Linked DNA regions of Homo sapiens: all the other regions are reported to be linked to region 3. The links are microRNA targets in miRTarBase. Many come from high-throughput screens and were not tested one by one. Region 3 holds a microRNA gene; each other region holds the end of a gene's coding sequence. Distances are between the middles of the regions.
The links. Region 3 holds the annotated microRNA hsa-miR-6888-5p (AAGGAGAUGCUCAGGCAGAU, at 1,111-1,130, opposite strand). A microRNA usually pairs through its seed, bases 2 to 8, with sites in the 3' UTR of a target mRNA and lowers its output. Matches are read on the target gene's strand: a 7mer-m8 pairs with bases 2 to 8, a 7mer-A1 pairs with bases 2 to 7 and ends in A, and an 8mer does both.

Region 1: the mRNA of IAH1 is a reported target of hsa-miR-6888-5p. Seed matches in the 3' UTR shown: 7mer-m8 at 1,524-1,530 and 7mer-m8 at 2,109-2,115.
Region 2: miRTarBase lists GAPVD1 as a target of hsa-miR-6888-5p. Seed matches in the 3' UTR shown: 7mer-m8 at 947-953.

What each region holds. Positions count from the first base shown.
Region 1 is chr2:9,487,593-9,490,849 of GRCh38, forward strand. It overlaps IAH1 (isoamyl acetate hydrolyzing esterase 1 (putative)), which reads left to right. Exons shown (of 6, transcript NM_001039613.3): 6 at 555-2,150. The coding sequence ends at 737. It overlaps ADAM17 (ADAM metallopeptidase domain 17), which reads right to left. Exons shown (of 19, transcript NM_003183.6): 19 at 894-2,926. The coding sequence ends at 2,585. Among named protein-coding and RNA genes, the nearest start is that of IAH1, 15 kb to the left of the region's middle.
Region 2 is chr9:125,362,163-125,365,419 of GRCh38, reverse strand. It overlaps GAPVD1 (GTPase activating protein and VPS9 domains 1), which reads right to left. Exons shown (of 28, transcript NM_001282680.3): 28 at 1-2,814. The coding sequence ends at 2,674. Among named protein-coding and RNA genes, the nearest start is that of GAPVD1, 100 kb to the right of the region's middle.
Region 3 is chr2:159,184,713-159,187,969 of GRCh38, reverse strand. It overlaps MIR6888 (microRNA 6888), which reads right to left and starts at 1,135; the gene lies at 1,069-1,135. It overlaps TANC1 (tetratricopeptide repeat, ankyrin repeat and coiled-coil containing 1), which reads right to left. Exons shown (of 27, transcript NM_033394.3): 15 at 2,071-2,179; 16 at 946-1,068. RefSeq lists a cis regulatory region at 2,283 and an enhancer at 2,199-2,368.

The DNA.
Region 1 (3,257 bases), 150 Mb from region 3:
CTATAGCACTAGTCAGGGTTCTCTGTGTGTTCAAACACCTACGTAAATAGCACATCAGTGCTACTGTAGTCCAAGACACCTCTGGTCAGATGCCTACAATGAAAGGGGCTGGTGATATTTCTGTCGCAGGGCCACAAATGAGAGAATGGTACACACTGGCATTTAGAAAAGTTATACCCTCCCTCCCCGGCCTTTTTGTGTGTGTGTGTGTGTGTGTGTGTGTGTGTGTGTGTGTGTGTGTGCGCGCGCGCGCGCGCGCTGTGGGGGGAGACAGTCTATCACCCAGGCTGGAACTCAGTGGTGCAATGATACCTCACTGTAGCCTCCAACTCCTGGGCTTAAGTGATCCTCCCATCTTCGCCTCCCAAGTAGGTGGGAATACAGGTGTTTGCCACCACACCCAGCTAATTTTTGTATTTTTAAAATTTTTTGTAGAGACAGGGTCTCAAACTCCTGTCTTCCAGTAATCCTCGGCCCCAAAGTGTTGGAATGACAGGGGTGAGCTACCACACGTGGCCAGTTACCCACCTTTAACCGATTTCTCTCCCTTCTAGGACTTCTCATCTTATTTATCAGATGGACTACATTTGTCTCCAAAGGGGAATGAATTTTTGTTCTCGCATCTCTGGCCTTTGATAGAGAAAAAGGTCTCTTCTCTACCTTTGCTGCTTCCTTACTGGCGGGATGTAGCAGAAGCAAAACCTGAATTAAGTCTGCTGGGAGATGGAGACCATTAGCCAATCACAGGAGACCCAAATCTGCTTGTTATCTACAGAACTCAAAGTTGTCAATACGTAGAGGTACGCTTTTTTCCTCAGGCTTAAACCTTTGCCACTGATATTAATAATAAAAGTATTAGATGATTTTTCAGGGAAGTTTTATACTTAGGTCCATTGTGTTTCGACAGTATTTATTAATGCAGATATCAGTGCTACAGCTATAAAATATACCCTGAGCAGCTTGTTAATTCTATAAATGACAAAGACTATGTTTTTAAAAAGTCACAATTTTATAAAAATGGTTTTTCTTACATTCTTTTGAGAACTGTTTCACTCATACATACACCCACACACCCCACTCAACCTTGTATCAAATTCCAAAAGTGTAACTAAAGTATAAGAATATCATGACTAGTTAAAAGATAGCAAATACCATAAGGTACAAGTTCAAGTATTAGTATAACAAGTATCTGAGTAACAAATGTCCTTGGAAATGGGGGGTAGGAGGAGATATGATTAGTCACAGGTTTGGTTAACTGCCCTCAAAATTTACAAGTTAAAATGTTTTGGCTGGTGAGCACATTTCAGTTCTTAGGGGAAAAAAAGCTTTTAATGGCAATTTATAGAAATCAGAATCCAGGCTAATGATTTTTATCCTTCACACAGTAAATGCAGCCCATCCAGAATCCTGGAGCAATAAAGTAAGAAGTAATTCAAATATCTGCTTGTGGGTCAATAAAAAGGGTTTCTGAAGTATCAAGTCTTGTGGGGACAGCCCCCAACCCTAAGGGCAGGTAGTATTCTATCTCCTGGCTGGCTCATCACATTCAAAACAACCTGTTTTTTTTGTTGTTGTTGTTGTTAAGAAATATCTCACCCTCTTATTCAATAGTGTTTGAAAACAGGCAATCTTTGTATTTTAAATATTCTAGGTTTGTAGATAGTGAATTTTTTTTTTTTTTTTTTTTTTTTGAGGCAGAGTCTCACTCTGTCACCCAGGCTGGAGTGTAGTGGCGCAACCTCAGCCTCTCCAAGTGCTGGGATTACAGGCATGAGCCACCACTCCCAGCCAATAGTGAATTTTCTAAGAGCATGTATCCCTATCAGTAACAGGGATACATGAAGATACTTATAAAATACAGAAAAACTGCCCAGCAAATCAGGGCCCTAAACAGTTGGTAGATTCCATAAATTCAACTGGCTACCATGTATAGCCCTCACTGTAAGGTAGGTGGTTAGGTTTCTAGAGAGCATTAGTCTTAGAATTATGAAGAGCCATATTAACCCAAATGATTTCTAAATTTAGATATATATTTTCCCTGCTACATAAAAACTCTGGGTAATAACTAGAAATAGACCCACAATTTAGAGACAATGTATACTAGATTTATCTCCTTTGTTTTTAGTTGAAGGCAAAAAAAAAAAAAAAAAAAAAAAACTATTCCAGTTGTCATCACAAATAAATGCCAAATGCCTCATATTCAGCGGTTCATTACAGTGTATAAAAAAAAACTGATCATTTCCCTAGTCAGTGCTGTTATCAATATAAAAGATTAATTTACAAAAACGTAAATATTCATAACCCAATCCAGCTGTATTTTCTGCTTTTGCACCACAGGTCAAAAGATATTTTAAAAACTAAAACCTGAAAGCCTCAAAATAAGCTAGATTCACCTTCACCTTACCTTTTCAAAAGGAGAAGGGCCAAACCACACAAGAACTGTTTACCTGCAGGAAGTTCAAACACATGACCAGCATCTGCTAAGTCACTTCCCAGTCTTCACAAAATACAAGCTGTGATTGATTTGTAGGTCAAATCTATAAAAATATTTTGCACACTTAAGTCAGAAGAGCTGAGAACTAAATTAGCACTCTGTTTCTTTGCTGTCAACACGATTCTGACGCTGCAGTTTAAAGGAGGCAGCCTTTTCACTTCTGGTGACCGGATGGTCCGTGAGATCCTCAAATGACTTGGCAGCTGTGCTGCTATTTGGGAAGGGGTCCTTCTCAAACCCATCCTCGTCCATATGTGAGTCTGTGCTGGGGTCTTCCTGGATGGTGTCCATTCTCTGGTGGTCCAGTTTTGGAGCTGCTGGCGCCGAAGGGATCACAGGGGCAGGCTGCAGGCGGCCTGGAGTCTGGGGCGCAGGAAAGGGTTTGATAATGCGAACCGATGCAGAATCCATGCTGCTCAGCATTTCGACGTTCTGCAAAGACATGGGTTCAATTGATTGATAGGAATAAAAGATGAATCGGAGGTCCTCACAGCTCCACCCTTACCCATCAAACAGCCTCTTATTCTGTTGGCACTGTGATGCTAAGAAAAAAGTGCTAGGTGAGGCTCACTCAACCTAAGTGACTAAAAAATACTAGGTTGGTGCAAAAGTAATTAATGCCATTACTTTTAATGGCAAAAACAGTAATTACTAGCTTTCAAGCATCCTGAAAACTTACTTACCATTTGAAGACCCAAAAGAGGATTCAAACCTCTCAAGGTAAGATCCCAAGAGAGAAATTGAACTCAAAATATTAACTAAG
Region 2 (3,257 bases), not on the chromosome of region 3:
TTACACTAATCTTTCATGTAAAGAAAGTACTGGAAGGCAGTGGAGGAAGAAACATTTGGGGAACAACTATTCCTCTTTTCTATTAAAAAAAAAAAAAAAAATCAAATCACTCCCCATCTCACATACCTGTCAAGAAATCAAACAGTGATGGTTAATGCCAAAGTAGTCCTTGCTCCTGACAGATTTTCAGAGGAAACCTTAGCTGCCCCTGCAACAGCTGTGCTGTGCTCCTCCGCCAGCTATGGAGTCATGAGCACCCGAACCCATTTCACAGGTGTCACAGATGTCAAATCTCTGGGGGGTCTACCCTCAGCCCCGGCTCCAACACAGCACAGCCCTATCTCCTGCCTCCAGTGTAGCCCTTCACCCCAATCCCACCACCTTCTCTTCCACAGAAAAGAGCCCCGATGCAATGTCCACATCTTCATATTTATTTCCACAGTGTTAACATGGAATAGACTTAGCAACCATTGCAGAGAAAAAAAAAATCTCTCATTGGTTTATGAGTTAAATCCTGTAACAATGAATTTCAACCATTCGAAGTCTTCTGCTGCTTAACATTTACTGAATCAAAGGCTGAAGTAAATGGACTCTCATCTAGGTCTCAGAAATCACACAGCTGGCCTCGTGATGTATTTACGATGGGATTTAACTTCTAATACAAGGCAAGTTTGACAGTTACAGCCAATGAAGTGCACGACTCTGTACATGGATTTCTTGACCTAACATTCAAAAGGACATTTCATAGTACTAGTTTAATTCTGATCTCTCTCTAGAAGGCAGAAACCACATCCCACACTCCTATGCAATTTGTTATTTTGGTATTGTAAAGTAAATGAATAAGAAGGGGTGGAGGCATAAAGAAAATCTAGTTTCTGGCTGGGCAGGGTGGTTCACGCTTGTAATCCCGCACTTTGGGAGGCCAAGGCGGGTGGATCACGAGGTCAGGAGATTGAGGATCATCCTGGCCAACATGGTGAAACCCCGTTTCTACTAAAAATACAAAAATTAGCCGGGCTTGGTGACATGCGCCTGTAGTCCTAGCTACTCGCGAGGCTGAGGCAGGGGAATCACTTGAACTGGGAGGTGGAGGTTGCAGTGAGCCAAGATCGCACCATTGCACTCCAGCCTGGGCAACAGGGTGAGACTCTGTCTCAAAAAAATAAAATAAAATAAAATAAAAACAAAGAAAAAAAAATAAAATCTTTAGGCATTCCCAGACACAAAGATCTCAGAGACAGACAACAGAGAGCCTCCGTGTTCATCTGCCCGAGGCTGTTTGTCACAGTTCCCTTAAAAGATGCCTGGAAATGCTCCCAACAACAAGGGACTCAAGTATGGGGCTGAGTTTGTTAAAAAAGCAGCTAAATGTGTTTAGGAAACACACGAAGTGAAACCAGACAGTGATGGCCCATGTACAAGACTTGTGCTTGAAGCTTTGGTGTGCCTCCATGGCCAATTTTTCAGGCACCAAAACCCATTCCTGATTAATTATTGATATACAATGCAAACCAAACTATGAAAACACAGACTTTTTTTCAGAAGAGGGAAATAAAGGCACAGAAACCTGCCAAAATAGATATTTTTTTCCATAAGAATAGTATGGTTGATTAAAATAGTTTATCACTAGTAAAACTTGTATCACTAGAGCAGACAATACAAATTAGTTTTTTAAAAAATGACATTCACTGAATTCTTGGTCTGTGCATTCAATGTGAATAATCATCAAAAATATATTACAATTAAAGGTTTGTAAGGAGCTCTGTCTGGGATTTCTGCAGTATATTATTTCGGAGGAGAAGAACCACCATAAAGTATGAGCTATCCACTGTTCCTTTTTATGTCATGTATGGTAATCAGTCTATCTCCTAATGCAGGCTCACAAACTTCCACGGTGAGATGTCTAAGTGACTTAGTGACCTTCACACTCATTAAAGGCAGCCCTGTCCATCAAACTCCATACCTAGAAAGTTCAATAAACTGTATTACATTTTAATAAATATTTCTGTGTACTTTTTGTTTTTTGCTTTTAAGCTCAGCTTAAATTTTGTCAAGGAAACCATTTCACAAGACAGTATGTCACAGCCTACTATCAGCAATAGTCCTTGTTTATTAGAATCTGCAGATGTCCATATTACATCAAATATAAATATATATTATATTTACATTTCCTTCTTAGCTTTCAATTTAGGTGAGTGTATTTATAGATAATGCCACTAACGCACCACTATTCTAATCCTCAGTGCAACTCATACCTTCTTTCCATTAGATGCTCATTAATGTAAGACAGCATCTTAAAAGAGGGGTACTGTTCTTTTTTAAAATAAAAGGAAAGAAAGGGAATCCAAGAATGGAGGTCTAGACATTTCCTAAGAGATTTTTGTTTTGTTTTTTATACTTAGAAATACTTGAAAAATGTGGTCCCTTTTTGTAGTACTAGTCTCTACTTGGGGACAAGAAAATAGAATATGCAACTCAGAAAGGAAAGAGCCCAAAGACGAGAGAACCTGCTTGTTAGCTCATTAACCTGTTTAGTAAAGATCTGCTTTAAAATGCCTGATGCTGTGCAGTATCATACAAAACAATCTTCAGCCTTCAAAGCAGCTGATGCACCTTCTCAGAGATCTGTTTGTCTGATTAACAGTCTGCTGCCTTGGTGGGCCTTGGTCTTGGTCACTTTCGGTCATCGATGGTTTTAATGAATTCTACTGCTGCTGTGAACTGCATCCACCAATAGGACTCCTCTCCAGACAGACAGCTAGCATAAAAGCTACTGATATACTGCACAGTAGACAGCAAACAGGGTGGATTTGCCTAGAGAAGTGAAAAATAAAAAAGAATCAATTACTCAGATGTCATAGCTCTGCCAAAATCATTTAAGTGTTCTTCGAATGTTCTTCTATGAAAGACATACCAATCCTTTTGAAAACAACCCCAAAGTTATTTTTTGGAAGTAATCTGTGAACCCTAGTTTCCATGAGTAGCAATAATATGCTGGAAAGGCAACCCAGGTTCTAATCTCAGCTAATCTATCTAGAGGTTTCTATCCTTGCAAGTCCTTAACCTCACTGATTTCTAAGAAGGCTGAACTAATCTCTGTGGTCTTACTCAACATCCCCGGATTTCAGAATGTTAGATAACAAAATAAATGCTGTAGGCAAATTGAGTTATATCTGGTAAGTCCAGGGAGAATAAGCTGAGAAAGAAAAAACTAAAAAAGATGACATGCCCTCTGTTGCCAGAGGTAACAGAGGACA
Region 3 (3,257 bases):
CAGTACCTTTAAATTTACTGTCTTAAAAACTTGTACTCAACAGATGTTTCCCATTTACTTATTTCCATATTAAAATAAATTCTATGCCCAGAAATTCATTAACATATGAAAACATATTGCCATTTTTATTCTCATCTTTCTTATGATTATAGAATTTTATTAGTTATGGAGAAGCCGAGAGATACACTCTTAGCTGAAATGAAAGATGAAACAATGTGAGTGATTCGGGGGGAAGACCTGGCTCCCTAAACTGACCCAGGGCTTCCACAGGCAGCCGGGTACATCAGGGCCTGAAGCTGAAAGGCCTGGACACTGTCTCTGTGGCCTTAACAGGCTGCTTGGCCTCTGTGTGCTTCAGATTCCCAGGCTACATGAAATCAGGAAGAAAAATCTACCTTAAAAAGCTGAGTGGAACATCATGACATGAAAGCCACTGACCAAGAAGTGAAGAAGCTCTTGGCTCCACAGAAGGCCATGCTGATACCCTTTCCATAGGCAGAAATATGGATACATGAAACCTCGATGTTTGTTTTTCTGTGTACTTATCTCTATGCATCACCCATCCATGCTTAATTTCCCATGAACTCTGAAGAGATGGTCCAGATTAGTAACGCAGGACACTTAAAAAATCCGTTTTCCCTAGAAATCTCTCTGATCTTTGATTTCTTTTGTAAATTGCTTCCTTATCACATCTGCTGTGAAACAGTCACCACATGTGCTCAGAGCAGCCCTGACCACCCACATCTTCCTGCCAAAGAAAAGCTAAACTTCTGGAAGAACGAGTAATACAGCACCCAAGCCCGTGTGATCAGGGAAGCACATCTTTAGAAGCTCCTCTGCGTCCTCTCACCACCACCCAGGGCAGAGGGAAACAGGGCTGTTGGAGGAACGGCCAGCAGCCGGCCAGGGCTGGGTCTCCGGCTCTCTGTGCAGAAGGTTGCTCACCTTCACGTTGGGAGTATAGAGATTCCTGAGAGAGGCCAGGGCGGCGGACAGCCCCTCGGTGCTGTAGCCGATCCACAGGGCTTGGAGATGGCTTGAAGAAATTCCCGTCTTCTTACTGAGGCCCTGGAAACAATCGAGACAGATCTTGGAAACAATCAGAGACAGATCTGCCTGAGCATCTCCTTCCCACCTGCAGGGTCACTCTGAAAGTGGGTCTGCCGCAGAGGGTGCAGATACCTGCAGAAGGCACGGGGTCACACACAAAGAATGCCTGGACATGCGAGCTTTCACTACCTGAAACCAAGGGTCAAGGAACCAGCCTGCCTTCACTAGGTTAACTTTGTGCCTTGGGAGAGAGATGGCAGATGAGAGTTTCTCTTTGAGTCAGAGTCTTGCTGTGTCGCCCAGGCTGGAAGTGCAGTGGTGCAATCTCAACTCACTTCAACCTCCACCTCCCAGGCTCAAGTGATTCTCATCCCTCAGCCTCTCAAGTACCTGGGATTACAGATACATGCCACCACTCCCAGCTAATTTTTGTATTTTTAGTAGAGACAAGGTTTTACCATGTTGGAAGTAAATTAGAGGAAGAATAAATGACAGAATTAGAATATCACCATCTGAGCCCTGCAAGGTGGAGCGTGCCTATAGTCCCAGTTACTTGGGAGGCTGAGGCGGGAGGATGGCTTGAGTCCAGTAAGCTATGATCCCACCACTGCTCTCCAGCCTGGGCAAACACAGTCAGAAAGTCCAGGTGGTACAAAATCACACAGGTCAAGAAACTCAGGTTCTCGAACAAATCAATAATAAGGAAACAAAAAGTAATGAACAAAGTGGAACCTTTAGATAAAAAGAAACTTATCAGAGATTTAAAGGTGGAAAGAAGTAAAACTTAAGCACAGCACTCTGATATACACTTGAGCAATCAACTATAGCAAAATGCAAGGAAATGCCCAGGCTGAGTCAGAACAGCGGTTACTTTTGGAGAGGGGAGGCAGGAGGAGGTTGCATTTGGGCTGAGGTGCATGGAGCGTTTCTTGGATGGCTGACAGAGCTGTCTAAAATCTCCAAAGCAAAACCTCAAAATGACAACAAAGAAACCCTTCCCCAAGTTGGTGTGCATCTCACCTTGAAAATGTGCGCCTTCAGGATGTGGTGGCCAAGCTCCATGGTCTGCTGGCGGTTCAACTTGCCCTCCTGACGCGAGAACATGAATGCCAAGAGCGCGTGCCCGTTCCTAGGGGAAGGAATACAAAGGCTCACAGCAGAAGAGCCCATTCCACCACACCGCAGACCCACCCTCAATTCACCACCCATTGCCTTAGTCACTGATTTATGCCCGTGACAAAGATGTAAACTCCGGGAGGCTAAGGGTCTCATCTGAGTCATAATGCCTAGCAAAGTGCTGAGCACTTGGTGAACACTCAAATGTGTTTCTGGAATGCATGCATGAATAGACACAGAGCACAGAACCATCCCTGGGCCTAGCCTTCAGGTCCCCTCAGGATCACCACCACTAGGGGTAGACAAAGGACAAGGTCTCACGTGGGAAGGAGAGAAAAGCCAGGCCGTGCTAGGTGACAGCTCATGATCAAGAAAGCAGAGAATTCTAGGCTTGGATGGCACACAAGTCCTTGTGGTGAGAAGAAGGCTAAGGCATCTAAGTGGGTTTGCTGTGGCTGGCACATGGTGGACATCCAGCCAACAGCACCCATTTCCCTTTTGTGAAGGTACCATCCTGCCTATTTTCCTGCCCATTTCCCTTTTGTGAAAGGGCCATCCTGCCCATTTGCCCTCCATGTCCATAGGACTCACTCTGTCTTCCTGTGGATCCCATGCCTTTGAGCCAATTAGTTTCTAAATGACACACAGAGTTGCTTATTCCAATAGGAGTGACTTCTATGCAATGTAAATTACTTTCATTTCTATCATCCTGTCAACTTTGAGCTGTTTGGTTGGGGAAAAGCAGGTAGTTGTGGAGGGAGGAAAAGATAAACATTATATATGTTTTAAAACGCATCCTCCTAGTAGTTGCTAATCTAGATGATTAAAAGCATGCATTATTTAAACTGCATTTGTCTTTCCAGGTGCATGCCTGCTTCTCAAATAGGTTATAAACCGTGTTAGAGATGAGGAAATCAAGGCAGATGGAGGCCAAGGAATCAGTTTTTATACTACAGGGGAGGGCATGACGTTTAAGGCCACACTGCCCACTGAGTCTCGTCCATTGTCTTGTAATGGCCTGAAGTTTTCCCACGAGCACATGCCCTGTCATTCCCTGAACACCTTCCATGTCCCAGATCTTGAGCCTGGGA